Linked DNA regions of Homo sapiens. The protein of the gene in region 4 purifies or fractionates together with the protein of the main gene of each other region. This does not show direct contact. Each region holds a gene or a part of one and is shown on either strand. Other genes may lie near its edges.

Region 1 (3,710 bases), on a different chromosome or scaffold from region 4:
TGGCAGGCTGTTTGTTTGCAGAATGAATTCCTAATAGTCTATTAAGTAATGTATGATAGTGTTTGTGTCACCTAGTATTTAAATATGTAAACATTTGATGCTTTTATGTTCTATTGTCACTGCAAGTGTATGCGTATGAATTTAGAAGCCCTAGATATTCTAATAAAATAGCAACAGATTTGTTGGAATTAAAGTTTGCAAAATCTAAATATAGTATATGCTCAACTTAAAAACAATACCATCAAAAAAGACATTAAAGCCATGCACGATAGTACTATGTCAAAGGAGACAAAATATGCATATAAAAGATTTTTTAAAAGGAAGGCATGGCTGATACATTTCCTGTAGATTCAACCACATTTATAGCTCCAAAAATTCTCTTTAAGTTGTTCTGTCATCCAAACAGTAAACCCAGGATTTGTGTTCTGAAATGCTTACAAAAACATTTTAGGATTTTAAAAGGTACATATTTATCATAAAATATGAAATAAAGTATCCAATTAGTGTTTTAAAATTTAATTTTTTAGGTTTTACTTTACCCTTGATATCCATTTTCATTCATTTCTCCAAAATTCTGACAAAGACATCTGCACATATAGTTACATCTCTATTGCTAAGTATTTTTAAAATCTTACATTTGACTTTCTTTGATCTTGTCTCTCAGAAAATGAGAAACAATTTTGATATTGAGAAATAATTACATTTGCTAAATTTCACATCATTAGCAAAAATGGTGCTCTAATGATCATAATCTAAGTAGTTCTTATAGAAGTGTCTTGACTTGCTTCTAAATGATAAGAATATCAGGGAATTCGACCAAAGTGGTTCCACCTCAATGCACTTCTGAAATACCCTCAAAATAATTTCAAAGAGAAAAAGTACAATTGAGCTATAAAATACAGCTCAGAAGAAATTTGTTCTCCTGAGATATTTGGTTTTAAATTCATGATTAAATCTCCCTGTGAAAATGTCAAATAGGAGAACCACATACAAACATAAATTTTCTATTTATAAATCAAGAGACATTAAAAGACAATCAGCTTCAGTTATATTGCTAATAAAACTCAAAATTAATGTTAAGTGGGACCTATGTAAGAGGGCAGAAAATCAAGGTATATTCAGGATTGTGACTGGCTGGGAATATTGTACTACAGTTTTATAATCAGTACAACGATACATATTTGTTTGTGTATATGAAATATAAAGCTCATACACACTAATACACATAGGAGGGCAAGAGCACATCTTCTTACATCTGTTATTCAATGCATGTAGTTCAAGACAATCAAGAGTTTCCTTTTTTATGCCATCAGACACTACTTACAGAGATTCATTAGTTTCACACGATTGATGCTGCATTTGACACTTATATAAGAAAATCATGAAAATTTTTAAATATTAAAAATATAAGTTCTACATGCTTAAACCTAGATTAACCAAAAACAATTATCAGATGAAAGGCATAAACTTATTTTTTAGTAATCAAGTGATATAACAAGTTTATTTGAAGTCTCTCATTTATTTAAGGTTGCAGAAAATGCAGCTGACAGTCCTGTACTTTGTACCTTCTCTAAGAACTGTGCCTGATGTAAACATTAACCAAGTCTTCATAGTTGATCCTCTGCTAAGAGGACCTATTAGTAAAAACTAACCAAACAATACACAAAGTTAAAATCCAAAAATTTTAATAAAAGCAGCCAATGTGGTTTTCACATATTGAAAACCAAATTCTAAATTAACATGGTTTCTGTATCTCTTTAGAGGTTAATAATTTGAGTACTCTCAAGTAGTGTAAAATTTAAAACAAAATGATAACTTGAAAATTATACTAGATGATCTCAGATCTCTGATTTTTGAAAGATATTTTAAAGAAATAAGACTCTGGTCCCTTTTCATCTATTTCTGCTAAAAATTTAACACCTTTAAAAGATTTTTGATATATAAAAATTATCAACATTTTGTTAAGCACAAATTAATCAAAGCCTGAATTCATCTGATATAGTTATAATCCTCCCAACGTGTATAAAAAGGCCTAGTCATTGCAATGTGAAGTTAAAACATACTCAAATAATTAAACTATATTAAAAATATATAAATAAGTTTAAATTACCATTGCTTTCCTTTTCTACAGAAAAAAATGTATATACAATTCCCCTGATATGCTGATTCTGTAGTCTCTTCACAAATATTAGGTCCTACAAGGTTTCTCTTATCTATAATAAAGCACGGTGGGATAGCAGATGATGAGGTAGAAACAATAGCAGAACAAAGGTGGGAGAAGCCTCAGCCATGGTTGAGTGGGCATTAAATAGCCAAAGTGAATTCATTTATGATCTTTATCCTATTTGAGCTCTGTTTCTTGTAAGGACTGTTCATTACATTTTCTTACTCTAATGCGAATCCAAGGCCAGGTGCAGTGGCATATGCCTGTAATCCCACCACTTTGGGAGGCCGAGGTGGGCGGATCACCTGAAGTCAGGAGGTCAAGACCAGCCTGGCCAACATGGTAAAACCTCGCTCTACCCAAAATACAAAAATTAGCCGGCCGTGATGGCCAGTGCCTGTAGTCCCAGATACTCGGGAAACTGAGGCAGCCCGGGAGATGGAGGTTGCAGTGAGCCGAGATTGCACCATTGCACTCCAGCTTGGGGGACAGAGCAGGACTCTGGTCTCAAAATAATAATAATAATAATAATAATAATAATAATAATAATAATAATAATGCCAATGTGTACTTATGACCCATAACTAGAGCATCATATCCTAACGCAATGAAATTTAAAAGTCTATGATTTTTTAAGCTAATACAGCTTTTAGCTTCCATAGCCACAGAAAGAAAACTTTTTGTCAATTTTTCGTAAGAACATACTAGCTGAGTTAAAATAATCCTTTCTTCGCAGAAGCTATCCTTGCTCTTTCTTCTGGTTGGCAACATGACCAGTGATAGTATAGATCACAGCTTCAGCTTTCCTAATCATTTCTTAGATATTTTTTATTCTAATGTAGCTCTTCACTATAAAATTGTTTACTACAGGAACACTCTACAACACAAGGAGCAAGAAAAGCTTCCTCCATAATCTTGCAAAAGATAACTGGTTTGTGTTCACTTGCAGGCCACAAAGTATATTTAGGTTGCTATAAATTTTTTGAACTTAATTATCAATTATGTTTACTTGTTCCAGTTTTTGGTGGTATAACCCAATGTATATTTTTTCTTTCCTAATCTGAAAGTTTATAATGTTGCTTCTCTTTCCTTATAGTTAAAAATGCTATACATGTTAGAAATTATGCAAATAAACTGAGTTTCTTTGTTATGAATTTTTAAAACAATTTTCATGTCATTATAGGAAAAAAGTTTTTGCTTTCAAGCTAAAACTATTATTTGAGAAATATTCTGAGTCATCTCAACCCACAACCCTACAAACGTATTTCTTTATTTAATAATTATTTAGCATCTATTTATGGGCCAGATACCGTTTTGGGTGCTGGGAATCAACTGTTGGACCAAACCAAACACAGACCCTGTTCTCATAAAGCTTACAACCTAGTGGATAAAGCAGCTGTTAACCAAATATCACATATGTAACGACATAGTATACTCACTAAAAATTCCCTATGAGGAAAATAAAGCTAGAGAACGTAGTTTGATAGGTGAAGAACTATAGAGCTGCCAAACATTCCAACCAGTCTAGAATGGCTTGGTATAGACC
Region 2 (3,500 bases), on a different chromosome or scaffold from region 4:
AATAAAAAGACTGATGGGCTAAATTGTGTATTTATTCATACAGAAGATTATTAGCCTGTTAAAAAACAGTGAGATTTTGTATAGCAAGATCACGGGTTTTTTTAATGAAAAAAATATGCATACAGGTGTGTGCACATACCTATATATTTACTTTTTTCCCCCTCTCACTCTGTGCCCAAGCTGGAGTGTAGAAGCACACTCATGGCTCACCGCAGCCTTGACCTCTTGGGCTTAAGCAATCCTCCTACCTTGGCCTCCCTAGTAGCTGGGACTACAGGTGTGTGCCACCATGCCCAGCTCATTGACTTTTATTTAACTTTTTGTTTTTCTAGACACAGGGTCTTGCTCTGTAACCCAGGCCTAAGTTTACTTTTAAACATTGTACATACACACACAGTCTGGAGAAGTATGCCTAACTTTTAGTAGTGGGCTGTCCCGACTGTGAACAACTTCTGCTTTTTACTCCCATGCACGTATTTTAAAACCTGCCGGGCGCAGTGGCTCACAACTGAAATCTAAACGTTTTGTGGGGCTGAGGTGAAAGCACTGCTTGAGGCCAGGAGTTCAAGGCTGCAGCGAACTATGACTGCGCGACTACCCTCCATCTGAGTGACAGAGTGAGAACCCACCTCAAAAACAAAACAAAAACAGCAACAAAAGCCTGTAGTACAAGTATTTGCTTTTATCAGAAGAAAAAGGAAAACAAAAAAGGAGATCCACAGGCTCTGTTTTTTGCTTTTATTATTTCTTTCTCCATTGATTTTCCAGGACTCTTTGCCTTGGCAGAAGTATACTTGAGTAAAGGCAAAAACACGCAATGTATCATGAGCCACAGAAGTGACTTCATTCTGCTGTTCTCCCAGCACTTACCCCAAACACTGTGGCTGACACTGGGGCCTGACTCTCAGATATTTAAACCCAGTACTTCACCACCAAGTATTAGTTATTATCTCATTTAGTTTTGGGCCCTGAGAACCAGGCCTTCAATTACAGGTTGGGCAACCCTATCTGAAACTGAAACCTTCTGAGCACTGACATATTGCCACAAGTAGAAAATTCCACACCTGATGTGTGGAATTAGTGAAAGTTTTGTTTCATGCACAAAATTATAAAAAATATGGTATTAAATTATCTTCAGGTGTATAAGAAACAAATTTCTTGTTTAGATTTGGGCCCCAATCCCAAGATTATCTCATTATGCGTACGAAAATACCGCACAAAATCCAAAAAATGAAACCCTTCTGGTCCCAAGCATTTCAGATAGGGAAAACTCTACATGAACCAAGAGAACATTCGGTCTACAAGCCCAGCTTCAGCTGATTCTTTTTTTTAGGGGGATGGAGTCTTGCGGTCGCCCAGGCTGGAGTGCAGTGGTGCGATCTGGGCTCAGTGCAACCTCCACCTCCTGGGTTCAGGCAATTCTCCTGCCTCAGCCTCCTGAGTAGCTGGGATTACAGGAGCCCGCCACCACACCTGGCTAATTTTTATATTTTTAGTAGAGACGGGGTTTCATCATGTTGGCCAGGCTGGTCTCGAACTCCTGACCTCAGGTGACCAGTCCGCCTCAACCTCCCAAAGTGCTGGCATTACAGGTGTGAGCCACGGCGCCCTGCCTCAGCTGATTCTTTCTTAAGCCAATAGTTGAGTGTTACCAAGTTAAACCATTGAAGGGGAAAGAAAGATAAACAAGACACAGCCCTAGTCCTCATCAATCTGCTCTTGACAGAAGGCAAGATGACATAAATATTAAACCAAGGGGTAAGGAACTATGCCACGGGAGGACAGAGGACCCAAGGAGACGAGTTGCTATTGGTGGGATGGATCAGTTGTCTTTTGAGGAACTAGGTCTCTAAGGCAGACAGATGGGGAAGGGTGGGCGGAGCGAAGTCACAGAGAACCAGGAGAGTAAATCACGTGTTTGGGGCCTGACTAAAGCACAGGGTGTGGGGGATGGGCAAGAGAGATTTCGGTAAGATGGTGAGAGTCATGTCATGTGGAATGTGACTTTTACTGTATAAGCTGCTTTTAAAAGAAATGTTAAAGTGACAATTCTGTTTTTGCCAAGTGCTGTTTATAAGGGATGTTATTTTCTCCAAGTCCAAGCAATAGGAGGCTCAGGCAGTCCTACTTTTTGGACTCCATGTTGGAGTTCAGTGGTGCCATGATAGCTCAGTGCAACCCTGAACTCCTGGGTTCAAATGATCCTCCCGCCTTAGCCTCCCAAGTAGCTAGGAAAACAGGCGTGCCTCGACGCCTAGGTACTTTTTTTTTTTGGCAGTGGATAGAGGCAGCCCAGGCTGGTCTCAAACTCCTAGACTGAAACCATTCTCCTGCCTTGGGTTCCCAAAGTGTTGGGATTACAGGTGAGAGACACTGTGCCCCGCCCCCACCCCCCTTTTTTTTAAGAGAGACTGGGTCTTGCTCTGTCACCCAGGCTGGAGTGCAGTGGTGCAATCATTAGGTCATTGCAGGCTTGAGCTCCTGGGCTCAAGTGATCCCCCTCCTAAAACTCCCAAGTAGCTGGGATCACAGGTGCATGCCATCATGCCTGGCTAATTTCTTTTTGGTGGGGATGGGGGTCTCCCTATGTTGCCCAAGCTGATCTCAACCTCCTGGGGTCAAGTAATCCTTCCGGTTCAGCCTCCCAAGCAGCTGGGACCACAGATGCATGCCACCACACCGGGCCTTTAAAAGTTTTTTTGTAGAGCTGGGTTTTGCTATGTTGCCCAGGCTGGTCTTGAACTCCCAGGCTCATGTGATCCTCCTACCACAGCCCCGAGTCGCCTGGAATTACAGGCACACGCCACTGTGACTGACTCCCAAAAGACTCCTTATTTAAGGACCGCTGACAATCTACAGAGGAAAATGAATAAAGGACAAATACTCCTTCCATCCTCCATTGGAATTCCCAGATACCAAGAAAACAAAACACAGTAGAGAGATCTTGAAAGAAAATGCAAAGCTTCGCTGAAGGCTCCCAGTTCAGAGTGGTTCACAAGTCCAACACACAGACAAGTAAACGAGGCACATTAGCAATGTATTCGTTTTGAAGAAAGCACTTAACATGAAACTTGCTTATGAAATCCTCCATACCTTTGCTAGACCTCTTTGATGTTTTCTTGTTTCCCTCGGAGGTAATTTCAATTTCGTCAGGATTACCACCTTCATCTTCAATTGCCTAAAAAGAAGGGAAAAGTAAAGTTGATCCAAAAAGTCAGCTCACACACTGCTTTCAGAGAGCTCTCAGGTGACAAGGAAACTGTATTTTTAAGATCAAAAAGCTGCTGCCGCCCTCACCACCCAGGACCTGTGGCCCATCCACTCATCTGTTATCTCGCTCTACACTGGAGACCGACTGACGCCACCAGTTCTTAGCTGGGTGGTCCCAGGCAGGTTTACTTAGGTGCTCAGTTTTTGCTTCTTCCTCTGGAACATGCGGCTAATAATAATACAGTACTTACCCTGGAAGGCTGTTGTGAGGACTCTACTAGCCATGAAAA
Region 3 (3,500 bases), on a different chromosome or scaffold from region 4:
GAAGCCCGGGCGTGGTGGCTCACGCCTGTAATCCCAGCACTCTGGGAGGCCGAGGCAGGCAGATCACCTGAGGTTGGGAGTTCGAGACCAGCCTGACCAACATGGAGAAAGCCTGTCTCTACTAAAAATACAAAAATTAGCTGGGTGTGGTGGCACATGCCTGTAATCCCAGCTACCTAGGAGGCTGAGGCAGGAGAATCACTTGGGCCCAGGAGGCGGAAGTTGTGGTGAGCCGAGATTGGGCCATTGCACTCCAGCCTGGGCAACAAGAATGAAACTCCATCTCAGAAAAAAAAAAAAAAAATTAGCTGGGCGTGACAACATGTGCCTGTAGTCCCAGCTACTCGGGAGGCTGGGACAGGAGAATCACTTGAACCCCGGAGGCAGAGGTTGTAGTGAGCCAAGATTGTGGCACTGCACTCCAGCCTGGGAGATACAACAAGATGCTGTCTCCAAAAAAAACAAAGAAAGAAAAAAGAAAATATCTAATATCTAAAATTAATGGATGAAGAGGCAGCAACATATTTGTATTTTTAGGAATATGTAGCTATGAAAAGAAACTACTGAAAAAGCTGAAAGTAGTTGCCTTTGGGTAGCATGACTAAAAGTGGGATCAGGCAGGGCAAAGAACTACTAGCTTTTGTTTTTTTAAATGTTTTTAAAATAATTTTTTGTAGAGATAGTGTCTTATTATGTTGCTCAGACTGGTCTGGAACTCCTGGCCTCAAGCGATCCTCCTGCCTTGGACTCTCAAACTGCTGGGATTACAGGTATGAGCCACCACACCCAGAGAGAATAATTGAGGGGTTTTTTAAAGAGGGTTTAATTTAAGAGAGGGTCTCGCTCTGTCGCCCAAGCAAGAATGCAGTGGCTTGATCGTAGCTCACTGCAACCTTAATCCCTTGACCTTAAGTGATCCTCCCTGCCTTAGCCTCCCAAAGCGCTGAGATTACAAGCATGGACTGCTGTGTCTGGCTTGGTTTTTGTTAAGAGACTTTTTTTTTTTTTTGAGACAAAGTCTTGCACTGTCGCCTGGGCTGCTGTGCAGTGGTGAGATCTCAGCTCACTGTAACCTCCAACCCCTGGGTTCAAGCAGTTCTCCTGTCTCAGCCTCCCAAATAACTGGGATTACAGGCATGTGCCACCATGACCAACTAATTTTATATTTTTAGTAGAGATGGGGTTTCACCGTGTTGGTTAGGATGGTCTCGACCTCCTGACCTCAGGTGATCCACCCACCTCAGCCTCCCAAACTGCTGTGATTACAGGCGTGAGCCACCACGCCCAGCCTTACCTCGTCCTTTCAATGTCCTCACATGGCTGGAGGCAGGGGACGCAGACCCTTACAGGTTGGCAAGATAAATAAAAGTTGGTTCGTCGAAAAGGTAATGATGGATTATCCATTTGCCATGGTTTGAGCCCCTTCTAGATTCAGGCCTGCAAAATGTGGTTAATCAACTGGGCTCCTGACTCACCTGGTGTATCCGGGAGCATGTCGCCTTTGGTAGACCTCTTTTTTAGGTGATGGGCTCCTAGTTTGGCCTGTCTCTCTCCTGTTCACCTTAGAGTTGTGCCTGTAGCAGACACAGAAGGCAAAGAGGAAAAAGCCTTTTTGGTCCAGGGGCTTACACTGAATCCCTCAAACAATGCAAGATGAGCTAATGGTCTTAGAGGTATAATCTAAGTGTGAGAAAAACAAAGGTATAGGGTTTGATGTTAGACTCACCCCAGAGCTCCCAAAGCACAGAATACACCTACAGATATGTGGCTTTGGATGCCTGAGCTTTACATTGAGGTGGAAAAAAAAAATGATGTAAAGGAAATACCAAAGCAAAGACATTTGGGAAAGTCAATGGACGGACATCACCAAAAGCAAAAACAAATGCCTGCTGGGACCAGGCCCCCACAGTCACAGGTTATTTCCCAGTGAATCCCACACTCACAGTTTGCTGGGTCTTGGGGACCGTGACCTTCTGCCCAGGGATCGAGACCTCCTGTCCCGGGACCCTGCTTCCCTGGTGCTCTTCTTGCTGGCATGTCTTGGGGGTGAGTGGGAGGAGCTTCTGGATCTGGAATGGTTCTTCATCCCATGCCCTCTCTTTTGCTCTGCTGTCAGAGGACCCTGAAGACCCTGGTTACGGTCAGAGTTCCGGACCTACATCATTAAGGAAAAGAGAAGTTATTCACATGGAAAATCCAGCTATTCAGGAGAAAACGCGGCCGGGCTCAGTGGCTCACGCCTGTAATCCCAGCACTTTGGGAGGCCGAGGCGGGGGGGATCACCTGAGGTCAGGAGTTCGAGACCAGCCTGGCCAACATGGTGAAACCCTGTCTCTACTGAAAATTAAAAAATTAGCTGGGCGTGGTGGTGGGCACCTGTAATCCCAGCTACTCAGAAGGCTGAGGCAGGAGAATTGCTTGAACTCAGGAGGTGGAGGTTGCAGTGAGCTGAGATCGCACCACTGCACTCCAGCCTGGATGACAGAGCGAGACTCCGTCTCAAAAAAAAAAAAAAAAAAAAGAAAAGGCAGTGAAACAGGAAATGTTACATAAGGAGCTCACTGAGCACACCAATATCATCACATAGAATTATCACAGAGAACTGTATAAACTTAGTTATCTGCAGAATCCCCTAAAAGAATCTCCTTCGGTCAGCCAGGTGCAGTCGCTCACACCTTGAATCCCAACACTTTGGGAGACGGAGGCAGGAGGACTGCCTGAGATCAAGAGTTTGATACCACCCAGAGCAACTAGTGAGACCTTGTCTCTACAAAATATTTAAAAATTAGCTCGGTGTGGCAGCACACGCCTGTAGTCCCAGCTACTCAGGAGGTTGAGGCAGAAGGATCCCTTGAGCCTAAGAGGTCAAGACAGCAGTGAGCCAGGATCACACCACTGCACTCCAGCTTGGATGAGAGAGAAAGACCCTGTCTCAAAAAAAAAAAAAAAAAAGATGGCTGGGTGCTGTGGCTCATGCCTGTAATCCCAGCACTTTGGGAGGCTGAGGCAGGCAGATCACGAGGCCAGGAGATCAAGACCATCCTAGCTAACATGGTGAAACACTGTCTCTACTAAAAATACAAAATAATTAGCTGGGCATGGTGGGCACCTGTAGTCCCAGCTACTTGGGAAGCTGAGGCAGGAGAATGGCATGAACCCAGGAGGCAGAGCTTGCAGTGAGCCGAGATGGCGCCACTGCATTCCAGCCTAGGCGACAGAGTGAGACTCCATCTCAAAAAAAAAAAAAAAAAGAAAAGAAAAGAAAAGAATATACCTGGCTTGGCTGGGTGCAGTGGCTCACGCCTGTAATCCCAGCACTTTGGGAGGCCAAGACGGGCAGATCACAAGGTCGGGAGTTCGAGACCAGCCTGGCCAATATGGTCAAACCCCTCTCTACTAAAAATACAAAAATTAGCCGGGTGTGGTGGTGGGTGCCCGTAGTCCCAGCTGCTCAAGAGGCTGAGACAGGAGAATCACTTGAATGCAGGAGGCAGAGGTTG
Region 4 (3,937 bases):
GATACCATGGGTTGAGAAGCACATTCCTTTATCCTAGTTGGCTTCTTCAAGTGCCCTGGTGAAGAGCCACTGCTATAGAATGAAGCTGCCTATGATAAGATCCAGGAGTGTGTATGAATGAGGTAGTGACATGGAATACTGATGCTGAGAAAGGTGGCAGACACAGAGTACTTCTGCCCTGACTACTAAAGTTTATATTCTTTTTTTTTTTTTTTTTTTTTTTTTTTTTTTTAGACAGAGTCTTGCTCTGTCGCCCAGGCTGGAGTGCAGTGGTGCTATCTCAGCTCATCGCAACCTCCACCTCCCAGGTTCAAGAGATTCTTCTGCCTCAGCCTCCTGAGTAGCTGAGATTACAGGCATGCGCCATCACGCCTGGCTAATTTTTGTATTTTTAGTAGAGACGGGGATTTCACCATGTTGGTCAGGCTGGTCTCGAACTCCTGACCTCGTGATCCCCCTGCCTTGGCCTCCCAAAGTGCTGGGATTACAGGCGTGAGCCACCGCACCCCGACCTAAAGTATATATTCTTGCAAATGGAATACACGTCATTGTGACGTGAGTTCCAGTGACTGTTAGGAGCATAAAAGTCCCTAAATACTTTCTTAGTAGGCTGTACTGATGCTGTGGGTTGCTTGAGGAAGCAATAGGGCAGTGGTGCTCTGCCTTGGCTGCACTTTCTTTTTCATTTTTTTTAGATGGAGTCTCGCTCTGTCACCCAGGTTGGAGGACACTGGTGCGATCTCTAGTCACTGCAACCTCTGCTTCTCGGGTTCAAGTGATTCTCGTGCTTCAGCCTCCTGAGTAGCTGGGATTACAGGTGCCTGCCACCACGCCTGGCTACATTTTAGTATTTTTAGTAGAGACGGGGTTTCACCATGTTGGCCAGGCTGCTCCGGAACTCATGACCTCAAGTGATTCATCCACCTTGGCCTCCCAAAGTGCTGGAATTACAGGCGTGAGCCTTGGCTGCACTTTCTAATCACCCAGAGAGAAACTGAAAGTCCCAGTGCCCAGGCCACACCCCAGGCCAGTTTCTGCAGACTCTGCTGGGGAGTTGAAGGCATGGGTATTTCAGGTGATGCCAAGGTGTGCCTGAGATTCATAACCATCAACCTCTAGGAGGTGGTCAGTGATGCGTCTACCTGGCAAGAGCCCTGACCTCAAGCACAGCCGGGCTCAAACCTCTGCCCTGCCACCTGCTGACTGGCAGTAAGTCCCTGGGCATTGGCTTCAGCTGCTCTAAGTCTCAGCTTTCTCACCTTCCAAGATCAGCTTTCTCACCTTCCAAGAGAGGAAGATTGCGTCACAGAGTCATTCTGAAACTAAATGAGAAAATGCTGTGGTCCTTGTGGGGGCTTGAGGCACGTTAGTTCCCAGCTCTTGTCAAGAAGGCTGGAGAAGGAAGAATGGAAACAGAACAAACCAGGAAGGGAGCCCCTGACAGAGCGAGGCTAAAGAGCCCTGTACATTATCCAACTAGGAAATCGAAGGAGGAAGGAGAAAGAAGACAGAAGAGTCAACAGCCTTAGTCATACTCCTATGCGATTTATGCTGAGGGACATTTTATACCCATTGCAGGCCTTATTTTGCATCTTCTACGCAAAACAAACAGCTCAGGTGCTCCTGGAAAGGATGATTGTTCTTTCTCTGAGTAACTGACAACAATCCTCGACTCTCTAATCTGTTTAGCAGCTCCCCAGGCACATTGGGCAGCACAACCTAAGGCAGCGGCTCAAATCTTAAGGAAGCCCAAAAATACCCCGTGTGCGTTGTTACTGGATGCCCCGTCCCTTACGGCTCAGGAGATGTGTTTTTGATACACCTTGCAGCGGCTTCTGAAATGTGATCCATCCACTTAACACATCCTGAGAAGCTGCACTACGGGGAAAGGGGATATTCCCAGCAGCTCTGAAAGACTCGAGACAGGCAACCCAGCAAACCCTAGTTCCTGGCAGGCCTCAGCAACGCAGACACTAGCAACTCTGTGGTTCAAAAGCAGCCTTCCGAAAGCATCATTTTCCCCAGTTTATCAGGTCCAGGGTGATGTTTCTCTTCAGAAATCCTGCAAACCTTCTGAAGCCTTACCATCAAAAGCCTCGCCAAGGAACGAAAAGAAGCTTCGGCTGCTGACACCCAGGACCAAGGAGCAGAAAACCAGGCCCGTGAGAAGCTTCATGGTGCTGAAATGAAAGGAGAAGTCAGGCAGTCGCCCACAAGACTGGCACAGCTTCCCTTGGGACTTATATTCCGACGAGAGCCTGGTTATTTCCACTGGATCTTATTAGAGTCTCAGTGGCTCATCTAGGAAACCTTGCAGCAGGACCTCACTCAGAGCCAGAAGCCCTCGGTTCTGAACCCATCAGCCCTGAAGCCTGACTGCATAAGAGGATGCCAACGTGGCACTGATGGAGGAAGGCAGGAGTTACCACCAGACTGTCACTCCCTCAAGTAGCCTATAATTCCCCATAACGCATTTACCGTGTGTTCCCTCTGCCCCGCACAGAACTCAACATGGGATAAACACAAAGCAGGATCATTATTTTTTATTCTTAAAGCCTTTAGCACCTGGTATTCCCAGGTGTTCTCCCATCCAAGTACTACCAGGCCCGACCCTGCTTACCTCTCTAGATCAGAGGAGATAAGACACCTTCAGAATGGTATGGCTGTATGCCCCAGGATAACTATTTTTTTTAAAGGAAATGATAATCTTGTTGGGAAAGAGAAAACAGAGTAAGTTTTAAAAATCACTCCTTGGTGTGCTCCTCACCTGATCTGTGCTGTAGCTGAGCTGCGGGTCCCTGCCTGCCAGGGAGCGGTGGCTGCTATTTATACTGAGCCTTCCCTGCTGGTTTCTTGGGAGCGAAGAAAAGCTGGATGTGGTCCCTGGGGAAAGTCCCTGCAGGTCATTTCCCCTACAAAACGGTCTAAGACAAGTTCCTGGATGCCAGTGGTTTCTTCATCCCGGGTCATTTATCCCAGTTGTGCAACCTGAGGGAACAAGATGTGCCTGGCAGCTGTCAGGGCAGGAGACCAGCTCTGCTCCTCAGCATTGAGGGGGCTGAGGCTGCGGAGTTGAGAGTGGGAGCCCCGTGATGGCGGCACCTGGGCTGCTGGAAGGTGTGAAGTGAGGGCAGCTTTGAAGCCAGCTCCTGACTCTACCAGTCATTTCCTCAGGATGGGCTCTGCTGGGCCACATGGCAGATGCCTCTGAAATGAAGTCCCTCTGAGTTCATATCTAAAGCTTCAAAGCTGACAGACTAGGTCCAGCACAGTGGCTCACTCCTATAATCCCAATGCTTTTGGAGGCCAAGGCAGGAGGATCACTTGGGGTCAAGAGTTTAAGATCACTCTGTGCAAAACTGTAAGATCTTGTCTCTACGAAATATAAAAATAAATGGACCGGGTGTGGTAGTGTGCACCTGCAGTCCCAGCTACTCAAGAGGCTGAAGCGGAAGGATTGTGGGAGACCCAGGAGGTCAAGGCTGCAGTGAGCTATAATCACGCCACTGCACTCCAGCCTGGTTAACAGAGCAAGACCCTGTGTCTAAAAGAAAACAAAATAAAACTAGCAGCCTACCCCTGCCATGTCTCATGTGTGCCCTGGAAGGCTCCTTCCACCCCTCAGTCTAGATATCCAGAGATTTACCTCCTCAGCACAGAAAAGCCCTGCTCAGCTGGCCTAGTCAATTAGGAAATTAGGAAGGAAGGAAGTGGTCAGTACCAGAGCCCAGCAGGGCTGAGGCCAGGACATGCAGAGAGGCTGGTGGATATAGCAGCAACTGTGGTTTCTTCTTCTCCAGTCCGTTTTCACTCTTTTATTTTTTCTTTCTTTCCTTCCTTCCTTCATTTCTTCCTTCCTCTCTCTTTCTCCTTCCTTCCTTCCTTACTCCCTCTCTGTCTTCCTCCTTCCTTCTTCTCTCTTCCTCCTTCCTTCCTC
Region 5 (2,639 bases), on a different chromosome or scaffold from region 4:
AAGCTCCCGTGTGGAACCTGCCCTCGGTGACCCGATGGCGCCCAGCCGCTGCTCACCATGGGTGAGTTTCCCGTTTACACTCCCGAGGTATTTACCATAACACCCAGCAAGCGACAGGACAGGAATGCTAATGAAGTCTCACAGGAGAGAACACTTCACACCAACTGATCAGAGCACTGCCACCGTCTGTGCTGCCCAGAGATTCAGGAGAAGCTTCGGGTGTCCTGGGACACTCGGCACAGCACCGAGTCAAAGTCCCTGGCAGAGCTGGAAGTGCCTCTCAGCGCGGAGGGAGGGATGGAACGGGGGAGCACAGGGGGCCAAAACCCACCCTGTGGCGCTGGGCAGGGTCCGAGGCAGCCCTGGGCCAGGGCTGGAGACAAGACAGGACACTCGGCTCACAGAGGAAAGCAGGGCAGCAGCCGCAAAGCAGTCCTGCCACCAGCCTCCTCACGGCCAGCCCAGACGGCAACAGGACAAACAGGCAGGGGTGACTGCAGCTGGCCAAAGAAACTAGAGAGGCACCCAGAGTCCTCCCAGACAAGCCCTGCCCCCCACCAATGCTGACAAGGCTCAGAACAGCACCCCCACTGCAGTGCTGGTGAAGGTGGCTTTGGACACCTGTGGAGGACCTGGCCCAGTGTCCTCAGCCCTGAGTCCTGGGTGGAGGGTCCTCCTAAGTGATTCTAATAGGCAGGATAGGGTTGAGAAGATCCACCCCAGACCAACTGGGGGTCAGAGAAAAAACCCGAGGAAGACACGTGTCAAGAGGCAACGTGGAGGCAGGGGCGAGGCTGCTCTACCACGGACGGGGCAGGACTAAGAGCTTCAGCGCTGTCTCTCCCAGTGTGTACGCAGCCCATGATCGAGACATTCACAACTGCAGGCGACCCCCAGCTCAAGAATGGGGATGGGCCATTCTGGGCGACCTGGACAGCTCCATCCCTGAAAGCCTGTTCTATGCTTTCTTCTTGAGAACCTGGACTTTCTGAGTCAGGGGTTTCAAATGGCAGGACCCCTGGTAGCCCATCCTAAAGCTCCCCTAGCTGAATCAAACCTTGGGGACGTGCCTGGCCAGGCACCAACCTTTTCCCAGGTTAGGACAGATGCTCCCCACCCGGCTGGGGCTCACCCACTAACCTGGGGGGAGGGGGCAGCCCCCGGCCTTCACTCAGCCTCTTGTCGGAGCCGTAGCCCCCCCAGCCATCACGGGAGTCCCGGCCGTGGCGCTCTGGGGGTCCTCCGTGGCCATGGCGGTCATCTCCATAGTGCTGGAAGGCAGGAGAGGAACAGGGTGACACTGACCATGTCACCCACATAGGCCCACCTTCCGGAAGGCCTGTCCACTGCAGGCCCCAGGGTGGCAGGTGGGGCGGAGCTGAGAGAGGACTGAAGGGTGCAGTCTCAGCCCTGCTGGGCCCTGCTTCACTGACCCTCTGCTCCCTGGCTCCCCTCCTCGCACCCCTACAGCTGCATCACTGCCCCACCTGAGCTGCCCCAGGAGCCAGGGCACCCTGGCATTACTGCCCTCAACAGCTCTGCTCAAGATCCACTAAGACGTCACCAAACCCTGTCTTCCCTGAGAAGTTGGGCGCCGCCTCCTTTCCGATAACAGGAGGGCCCTCGGGTGGGTCAGCCCCCCTGTGCTCTGGCAGGGCCACAATTCCGGCCTCCCTGGCCAACCAACTCTGCACGGAGCAGCCAGCAGCCAGGAAGCAGGCGGGTGCTGCCTGCTGTTACAGGCCATTACTCTGCCGCCCACCTCCCACCTCTCCACCAGGCTGCTGCTTTCTCAGAACTCACACCCTGCCACCACGCACGGGGCACCCGCATGGCACCACAGAGACTCAGGGACCATTCTTGTGGTCTTCAGCCCCCCGTGCCCACCAAGCACGGACTTGAAACATGGGGAAGCCCGGGCTCCCCCATCCCCCCGACCCTGGCACATGTGGGCTAAACGACAACCACCATTTGGGTTCTTGGGGGACCCCACAGGCACTAAGACCCAAAGGCTCCCTGAGCAAGTGGACAATGAAGAGACACATGAGGTTTCTACCGGATACAATGAAGAACAAGCCCAACATATTTGAAAATGACAGAAACTTGAGCATTACAAAACAATCAAATATTTGCGCTTTTTTTTTTTTTTTTTTTTTTTGAGACGGAGTCTTGCTCTTGTTGCCCAGGCTGGAGTGCAATGGTGCGACCTCGACTCACTGCAACCTCCGCCTCCCGGGTTCAAGCGATTCTCCTGCCTCAGCCTCCCGAGTAGCTGGGACTACAGGCACTCGCCACCATGCCTGGCTAATTTTTTGTATTTTTAGTAGAGACAGGGTTTCACCATGTCGGCCAGGCTGGTCTTGAACTCCTGACCTTGTGATCCACCCACCTCAGCTTCCCAAAGTGCTGGGATTACAGGCATGAGCCACCACGTCCGACTAAATATTTGTACTTCTAGTCGCTGGCCAGAACCCACACTTGCATACCCGCCACACGTGCTGACTTGGTTGCCACCTCTCTGGGATCAAGCGGCCGCCTGGCTAGAAATGGTCCGCTATGCCTGCACAGCAGTACAGTGGCCCCAGGGCTTGGCATCGGGGCTCTACTCACCTGCCCATCCCGGTGGTCTCCCATCATTG
Region 6 (3,500 bases), on a different chromosome or scaffold from region 4:
GAGCACTCCACCTGCCCTGGCAGCCCCAGGGGAGCCGGCAGCTGCTTGTAGCCCTATTACATATTGTACCCACACTACACACTCATCATGCTGGGCTCTAGGTACCAGACAGTGCCTCTCTTTTTTTTTTTTTTTTTTGAGATGGAGTCTCGCTCTGTCACCCAGGCTGGAGTACAGTGGCACACGATGTCAGCTCACTGCAACCTCCGCCTCCTGGGTTCAAGTGATTCCCCTGCCTCAGCCTCCCGAGTAGCTGGGACTACAGGCATGTGCCACCACGCCCAGCTAATTTTTTGTATTTTTAGTAGAGATGGGGTTTCACTGTGTTAGCCAGGATGGTCTCGATCTCCTGACCTGTGATCCACCCACCTTGGCCTCCCAAAGTGCTGAGATTACAGGTGTGAGCCACCATGCCCAGCCCCAGATGGTGACTCTCTAAAGGTGGGACCTGAGGTTTTTTTTTACCTTGTACCTCCCCATGAAGCAAAAGGATCACCATTTAATAGATACATGATAAATATTTACTGGTCAGCAATGAAGAGACCTAATTAAATAATTAGTAGACAACTCCTGGGTTGACCAGGGGCTTGAGAAGACCTCCTGGAGGTGGCAGATGAAAGGACACATGTGGGCAAGTTAGAGACAGAGGACAGAGGACCCAGTCAGGAGGGCAGGGGCAGCCTCAGAGAAATGAGGACGTCCCCATGCTCAATTCAGCAGTGCAGAATTCCGCTGCCAGGGCTGAGCAAGGCACATAGCCCCAAAAGTGCTCCTAAGGGCTCCTCTGGGACTGCTGAGCTCGGCCCCCCCAGAGGCTGCCCCTGGGCTGGGCAAGACAGCCTGGCTGTTCCTGGCCTTGTTCTCCACAGCAGATATTCTTAATGTCCCCTGCAGTCAGACATTGTGGAGATCATGATCAAAGTGGTAAACCCTTCTTCCAGAAAAATGCACATAGGGTTAGATGACTTTGGGAGTTCACGGTCTGACTAGACCCCACTTGGGATCCCCCCATCATAAGCTGTAGAGGTATCAAGGTCATCATTATTTTGAATGACAAGAATATCACTTTCCAGAAATGAACATTTAGCATCATCATGAGCCATGTGTTACCTAAATAATCCAGTCACAAAAGGGTTGTTTTGGTAAGTTGGCTGTTTGTTTTCCCCTCAGAAACAATTTTACACACCGATTACATGCAGATTCCCAGGGGCAACCGCAAAAGCCCATTTAATAGGATGCACCTGAAACATAAAAGCACGCAGTGCTATTTGTATTTCCCTGAGCCTGCTCCCAATGGGACAAGTGCAGCCCGCGATCCAGTGGGGACAGCAGGCAGGCCGCTCCCTCTAGGCAGCGACCCCCACCTCAGCAGTGAGAGGAAGAACTCCAAGAGGGACCAGGGAGAGCTGGGGCAGGAGTCTGTGCCTCCCAGGCACTGACATTCTTGAGATTGTCACAAAAGCCTCTCCTCCCCTTCCCCACACTGATGCATATACTCCACATGTATGTACAATTCCAGAGGGATCCTGGACTACCTGAACTTGCTCACAGAACTGGGGTTAGGAGCCCAGGACAAAGGAGACCACCGGACTCCAAGCCAATCACTGTCCAATGGGAGGCAAAGCGGAAGAACACGGAGAGCTGATGCACAGGGGCCCAGGCTTAGATGTCTTTCCACACTGGCCCACATGTCAGGAGTAAATGGAATAATCTGCAGAAGGTTCTACTGACTTAATATGAGGTATATTAAGATTAAAAAATTATTTTTTTGCTTCTCACTAAAATAGAGTGGAGTAAACCATCCTTTGGGGCCACGGTCAGGATGAAAAAGTTCTACAGCTCTTAAAGGGATCTCCCTGCCCCGGGGGCAACCCCAAGCTGCTGCTCCCTGCACCTGTCCAAGGTGAGCCCCCCACTCTCCTGCTTTCAGGCTGACCTCCCCTGACTGGGGCAGAGTGAGGGGGCTCACCCTGCATGAACAAACTGCAGGAGAAGGAAGCTCAGAGACTCTCCTGTGGCGGTGAGTCTATCGCCCGAGAGTTCAACCTGCTCTGGAGAGATGTGAGTGGTCCATGCAAAGTCCCCAAAGGTCCACTGCCCTGAGACAGACTGACTCAGCCCAGCAGCACATAGTGGAGGACACACTGGGAGGCCTCGGGAAATGCAGGCATGAGGCCCTGGGTGGCCTCCAGGGAGGTGGGAGAGGCAGGAAAGAGAGGCTCCCTTGACCACTCTCCCCATACCCTCCATGATATGGATGGTGCTGTTAGGCCAGCTGCTGGCAGGGCCCATGGTCAAGATGGACAGTGGGACTGGAGTAGGAATCAGGGGAGGGAAGACAAAGAAAAGCCAGCCATTGCCATTCACTGAGAATCACTGTTGCTTTCTAAAGTGACCCTGTTGATGTGGCAGGACTCCTGAAGATGAGAATTCACTGTGTGCTGGTAGGGAGGTTTACTTCATCCCTTTATCAGGCTCCAGGCCTTTGATGCCACTGCCCTGCCAGGGTGGCAAGTGGGTTTCATTCCACCTGCCAGCTTCCATCAGCGGTGGGCCTGAGACAGAGGCTGAGTCTGAGAACTCGCTCACTGGGAAGAGGAGCTGTGACCAACTTGCAACGTCTGCCACAGGCATGGGAAGCCAGCTGGGGTCAATACCAGGAGACCTCCAGTTTCCGCAGCTCGCACACATGGCTGTCTCCTGGGCTTTGGCCTCAGCTCCCAGAATTCCCCACCTCTATAAGGAAAGCACTCGCTGTCTGTGCTGGGCTTCCACACTCTATCGCAGCAGCCCCACCAGACACATGACACAGCTCAGTAGGTCCGTTTTACAGTGCCAGAAATTGTAGCTCTGGAAGACGAAGTGACAAATCCCCCAGGGCCATCACCACCTGCCACCTCTTCCTCCCAGCCCCTGCTCTGATGGATAGGCAACATCCACCCTGGACAACCCCTCGCAATCCTACCTTTGTTCTGGCCCCTGCTTTGAGTCTTCCCAGTTCACTGTAGCCCCATCGAATGATCTGTCTCTCTTCTAATTACAAAATACTTCTTATTCAGATATTTCTATGGCATTTAATTTTGTGTTGCTTTGTGACTGTGATATTGCTGTCTTCTGATATTTAAGGGCAGCCGGGGTATATTTTCAAAACATCAATCAGATCAGATCCCTTTGCTTAAAACTTTACAGTGGCTTCCTATCACAGGTAGATTCAAATCCAAACTTATTATGGCTACAGACCCCACACAAGCTGAGTCCTGCCTACCTTCAACCTCAACTCAGGTCACTTCTACTGCAGCCTCTGGCTCTCCTCTTCTCCCAACACACCAAGTTCATTTCTACCCCAGGGCCCTGGAACATGTTCTTTCCTACCCACCTGGAGCATACATACCAACATCTTCCCCCAGGTCTGTATGCGGCTTACCCCTCTTTACATCAGCCACTCAGGCTTCCACTCAAATTTCACCTTCTAGGAGACCCTCCCTGACCACCTATCCCAA
Region 7 (3,500 bases), on a different chromosome or scaffold from region 4:
TTTGCAGACTTGAAAATCTGGACTCCAAGTTCTTCCTACTATCCCCATCCCACCTGCTGGTCGCTCACCTCTGGCAGGGAAGAAATGGACTCGAAGCTCATGCGCTTCTCAGTACTGGTTGGAGACCGGCCACTGGGCCTTCTGCTGCTCCTGGAGCTTTCAGACTCCCTGCGCCCCTTTCCCTGCAGAGGTAGAGGTCAGTCATCAACTCCAAGACAACTGGAAGCTGATCCCTTCTGCATCCCAACACGGGCAGTGCCTCCCACGCCCCAAGGGGCTGGGCTGAGCTGAGAGCCAGTCTTGGACCTGAGCCATTCCAGAGCCAACCTGAACTGCCAGGCCTGGGGCTGCGGAAAGCCTTGTCAGGCATGCAGCTTCAAAAAACCTCAGCCCACCTTTCTGTCCCTCCAAAGTGGACTTGACCTTTCCAGCCCCACTGTGTGCTAGCTTCTCCCTGCCCCCACCACCCCACCCCACTTGTCATGCTTGTTGGGCGTTATATTGATTAGTGCCCAGTACTGGAACAGAGCATGCCAGGGGCTCACCAGGGTGTGACAGCGAGCGATGGTGTTAAGTGCTGAGGGGAGGAGTAAAACCAGGGCAGGGTGGGGTGAGGAGGGCAGCAGAGGGGGCCCTCGGGTGGGCATGCACATCCCAGGGAGCATGCAAGGAGGAGGGGAGATCGAAGAGACACCTCACCATAGCGCCCCGGGAGAAAAGTAAAGCGTTGGCCCGATAGTGCCAGCAGTGGAGGGCGGCCAGCAGGGAGCTGGCAAAGTCGGCTACCTGCTCCGCCACCGCCAGGCTCTCCTCCTGCTCCTCCTCCTCCTCCTCTGAGCCTGGGGGCTCCGGCCCAGCCCCCTTCTCGTTGCCTTCATGCCCTGTCAGGTCCTCCAGAGAGACCTGAAAGGCCTGCTCTTCCTCCTCCTCCTCCTCCTCCTCCTCCACCACCTCCTCCTCTTCCTCTTCCTCCTCCTGGGTAGCCCCTTCAGCCTCTGGCTGCAGGCCCCGAGTACGGGAGGGCTGCCCAAAGTCCAGGAGGGTTCCAGCACTGCCTGCATGCTGTTCAGAGCACAAGACCCCCTCGTGACCAGCCTCTTGGGCAACCTCCCGTCCTCCTGCAGGCAGCTGCGGGGGGGGAGCCTTCACACAGAAAGCCACACCTAGATGCCCAACTCAGGTTGCCACTGGGGTCCAGGGAGGGGTGGGCATTCTCATGGTGGAAAGGCTGGGACCTGGTCAAAACTTCAGAACCCAAACAGGCCTGCCTACTTGTCTACCCTAGGGAGAGGGAAATCTGAGTAGGTCCACACTGGGCAGGCCCCCAGCAGGGTGCTGTTCTAGGCAGAGGGTGCAGAAGGGCCCCCAGGGCAAGGCCCATGTCTTATTCATCTCTGTGGCCCTAAGCCACACAGCCTGGTACACAGTGGGTGCTTAGTAGGCATTTGTTGAATGAATGAAGACAATGAGGGCTGAAGGGGCCGGGGGCTGACCTGGGCAGTCCCACCCTCCTCTGTCAGCCAGTCCCCTCCTCCCACTGGCCTTTACCTTCATTCCTGCTGCTCGGGCTGCAGACATCACCACCGGGTCCCCCAGCACACGGGCGAGGGGCAGGGGAGGGGAGGGGAAGAGATCAGTAAGCAGGAAAAAGACCTCTGGACAGCTCCCTGGGGAAGTCCTCACTGGGGGCTCCTGCTCCCAGAACCCTCACCTAGTCTCCTGGGCTTTCAAAAGAATGACTGACAGAGCAGGGGCCCAGGGGCCACAGAGCAGCGCAGGTCTGTGCCTGTTGCTCGGCTCTCATTGTTTCCGGAGGAAAGGGCATGAGGCCTGTGCATGGGGGAGAGCTCCAGCCCCTCTCCTCAGCCAGCCAGGGGCGAGGCCCTCTTCTGGGGGGAATGGAGGCAGAGTTCCCTCTACACTATTCTGACAATCCTCCACCCTCAGGTCACACCCCAGGTTGTCGGCTGCTTCCCCTCCTCCCTCCTCCTCCCCCGCTCACTGGGAATGGCTGGCCACCTCACACACTCACCTTTCTCGTTGAGTTGCCTGAGCAGGTGTTTGGTTGGCTCTGAGGAGGAAAGCATGAGCAGAGTCAGCGCGGGCCAGGAAACTGCTGTGCCTGGCTGGGTCCCAAGCTCACAGCGCCACCAGCCCATCACCAGCTCAAAGTCCACTCTGGCTTGGCCCCCTGCAGTCATAGGCCCCAGGGAAGCTGCCTTCCACAGTGTCGGCGAGCCCCCTTGCACCTACGGACAGGGAGGCGGGCCCATCCATCTCCAGGACCCCCGCTGTGACTACCAGCCCTGCCGGAGCAGTACCACCCATGATGCAATGCATTAGGGCACCTGGCCCAGGGCCCTCGCGCAGGAGCCATAGGGAGGGGACTCAGTTCCATGCTACCCCCTTCAGACCAACTAGCAACATCTCCGGAGGTCCCTGGCTCCACCTCAAGCCCCTTGCCTCCCTGGCAATGAGCATATCAGCGCATCAGCTACACCCACTGCCAAGCCCCTCACAGCATCCCAGCTGGAAAGCAGAGGTCGCACCCGACTTTCTACGGCCCTTAAGGCTGGGCATCACGAAGCCTCGCTGACCGCTGGGGAGAGTTGCCCGGCTGTACGGAGAGTGACCAGGCTCTGGGGACAGGATACAAAACACATCCATTAGGCCAATGGTGTCATCACCGTGTACCCCAGCCTTTTTGAGGATACACCTGAGACTGGAGGGCAGGAATAAGAGGACCTTGTCTCAAGGTCCAGTTCTACAGAGCCTCGGCCTTCGCCTATCCATATCCTTGCCCAGCTGGCGGTAAGTGGGAGGCCCAGGGATCGCCATGATTTGCTACACACCTGGAGTCAGAAGGAAAGTCTACCAAGGTATCTTGCTGTTCCTCAGCAGGCAGGCCTGTTGAAGAACCTCTTTTCTGCTGACACACACAACATACATACACTATCTGTATCAATGTAAGTAAATGCCTAATTGTTTTTAAAGTGAAAAGTAGAAAATGTTCTATTCTTTCATTTTAAAACTTATCAAGAATATTTAATAAGTGAGACATAATTTAAATTAAACAATAGAACTTAATTATCAATAGAATACACTTGTCAGCTCATCTCAGCTCTCTGAGTGGGAAGCAGAAGCAGAAAAAACCTCAAGGAAGTCAGAGTAGATGGCTGAGCCCAGGCAGTAAAGTGCCTGCATGTGGCCCAAGTCCCTCCCTAGTGACTTTCCTGATCTTTTTGTGGTCTACAGTTCCCACAAGTTCAACAGATTGATTTCTTTTTTTGTTTTGTTTTGTTTTGTTTTTTTGCAACAAGGTCTCATCTGTCAGCCAGGCTGGGTGGGTGCAGGGGCACGATATCCATTCACTGCAACCTCTGCCTTCCAGGCTCAAGTGATCCTCCCACCTCAGCCTCCAGAGTAGCTAGGACTATAGGTGCACACCACCATGCCTAGCTAACTTTTTAATTTTGTAGAGATGAGGCCTCACTGTGTTG

What was found.
Region 1: the proteins of SAA1 (region 4) and PHF3 purify together in Homo sapiens (affinity purification with mass spectrometry; one large-scale study listed by BioGRID and IntAct). This does not show direct contact.
Region 2: the proteins of SAA1 (region 4) and SAFB purify together in Homo sapiens (affinity purification with mass spectrometry; one large-scale study listed by BioGRID and IntAct). This does not show direct contact.
Region 3: the proteins of SAA1 (region 4) and CWC25 purify together in Homo sapiens (affinity purification with mass spectrometry; one large-scale study listed by BioGRID and IntAct). This does not show direct contact.
Region 5: the proteins of SAA1 (region 4) and SAFB2 purify together in Homo sapiens (affinity purification with mass spectrometry; one large-scale study listed by BioGRID and IntAct). This does not show direct contact.
Region 6: the proteins of SAA1 (region 4) and PDIA5 purify together in Homo sapiens (affinity purification with mass spectrometry; one large-scale study listed by BioGRID and IntAct). This does not show direct contact.
Region 7: the proteins of SAA1 (region 4) and PLEKHG3 purify together in Homo sapiens (affinity purification with mass spectrometry; one large-scale study listed by BioGRID and IntAct). This does not show direct contact.

Annotation. Positions count from the first base shown.
Region 1 is NC_000006.12:63,722,802-63,726,511, reverse strand, and holds the end of PHF3 (PHD finger protein 3), read right to left. Parts: 3' UTR 501-3,710; downstream 1-500.
Region 2 is NC_000019.10:5,626,083-5,629,582, reverse strand, and holds part of SAFB (scaffold attachment factor B1), read right to left. Parts: intron 3,179-3,500; coding exon 3,094-3,178; intron 1-3,093. UniProt on the Homo sapiens protein: Binds to scaffold/matrix attachment region (S/MAR) DNA and forms a molecular assembly point to allow the formation of a 'transcriptosomal' complex (consisting of SR proteins and RNA polymerase II) coupling transcription and RNA processing.
Region 3 is NC_000017.11:38,804,822-38,808,321, forward strand, and holds part of CWC25 (pre-mRNA-splicing factor CWC25 homolog), read right to left. Parts: intron 2,156-3,500; coding exon 1,944-2,155; intron 1,575-1,943; coding exon 1,476-1,574; intron 1-1,475. UniProt on the Homo sapiens protein: Involved in pre-mRNA splicing as component of the spliceosome.
Region 4 is NC_000011.10:18,265,127-18,269,063, reverse strand, and holds the start of SAA1 (serum amyloid A-1 protein preproprotein), read right to left. Parts: upstream 2,801-3,937; 5' UTR 2,768-2,800; exon of another isoform or gene 2,621-2,767; intron 2,181-2,620; 5' UTR 2,177-2,180; coding exon 2,086-2,176; intron 1-2,085. UniProt on the Homo sapiens protein: Major acute phase protein.
Region 5 is NC_000019.10:5,589,138-5,591,776, forward strand, and holds part of SAFB2 (scaffold attachment factor B2), read right to left. Parts: coding exon 2,611-2,639; intron 1,272-2,610; coding exon 1,141-1,271; intron 1-1,140. UniProt on the Homo sapiens protein: Binds to scaffold/matrix attachment region (S/MAR) DNA. Can function as an estrogen receptor corepressor and can also inhibit cell proliferation.
Region 6 is NC_000003.12:123,140,025-123,143,524, reverse strand, and holds part of PDIA5 (protein disulfide-isomerase A5 precursor), read right to left. Parts: intron 1-3,500.
Region 7 is NC_000014.9:64,735,424-64,738,923, reverse strand, and holds part of PLEKHG3 (pleckstrin homology domain-containing family G member 3), read right to left. Parts: intron 2,072-3,500; coding exon 2,033-2,071; intron 1,569-2,032; coding exon 1,549-1,568; intron 183-1,548; coding exon 69-182; intron 1-68. UniProt on the Homo sapiens protein: Plays a role in controlling cell polarity and cell motility by selectively binding newly polymerized actin and activating RAC1 and CDC42 to enhance local actin polymerization.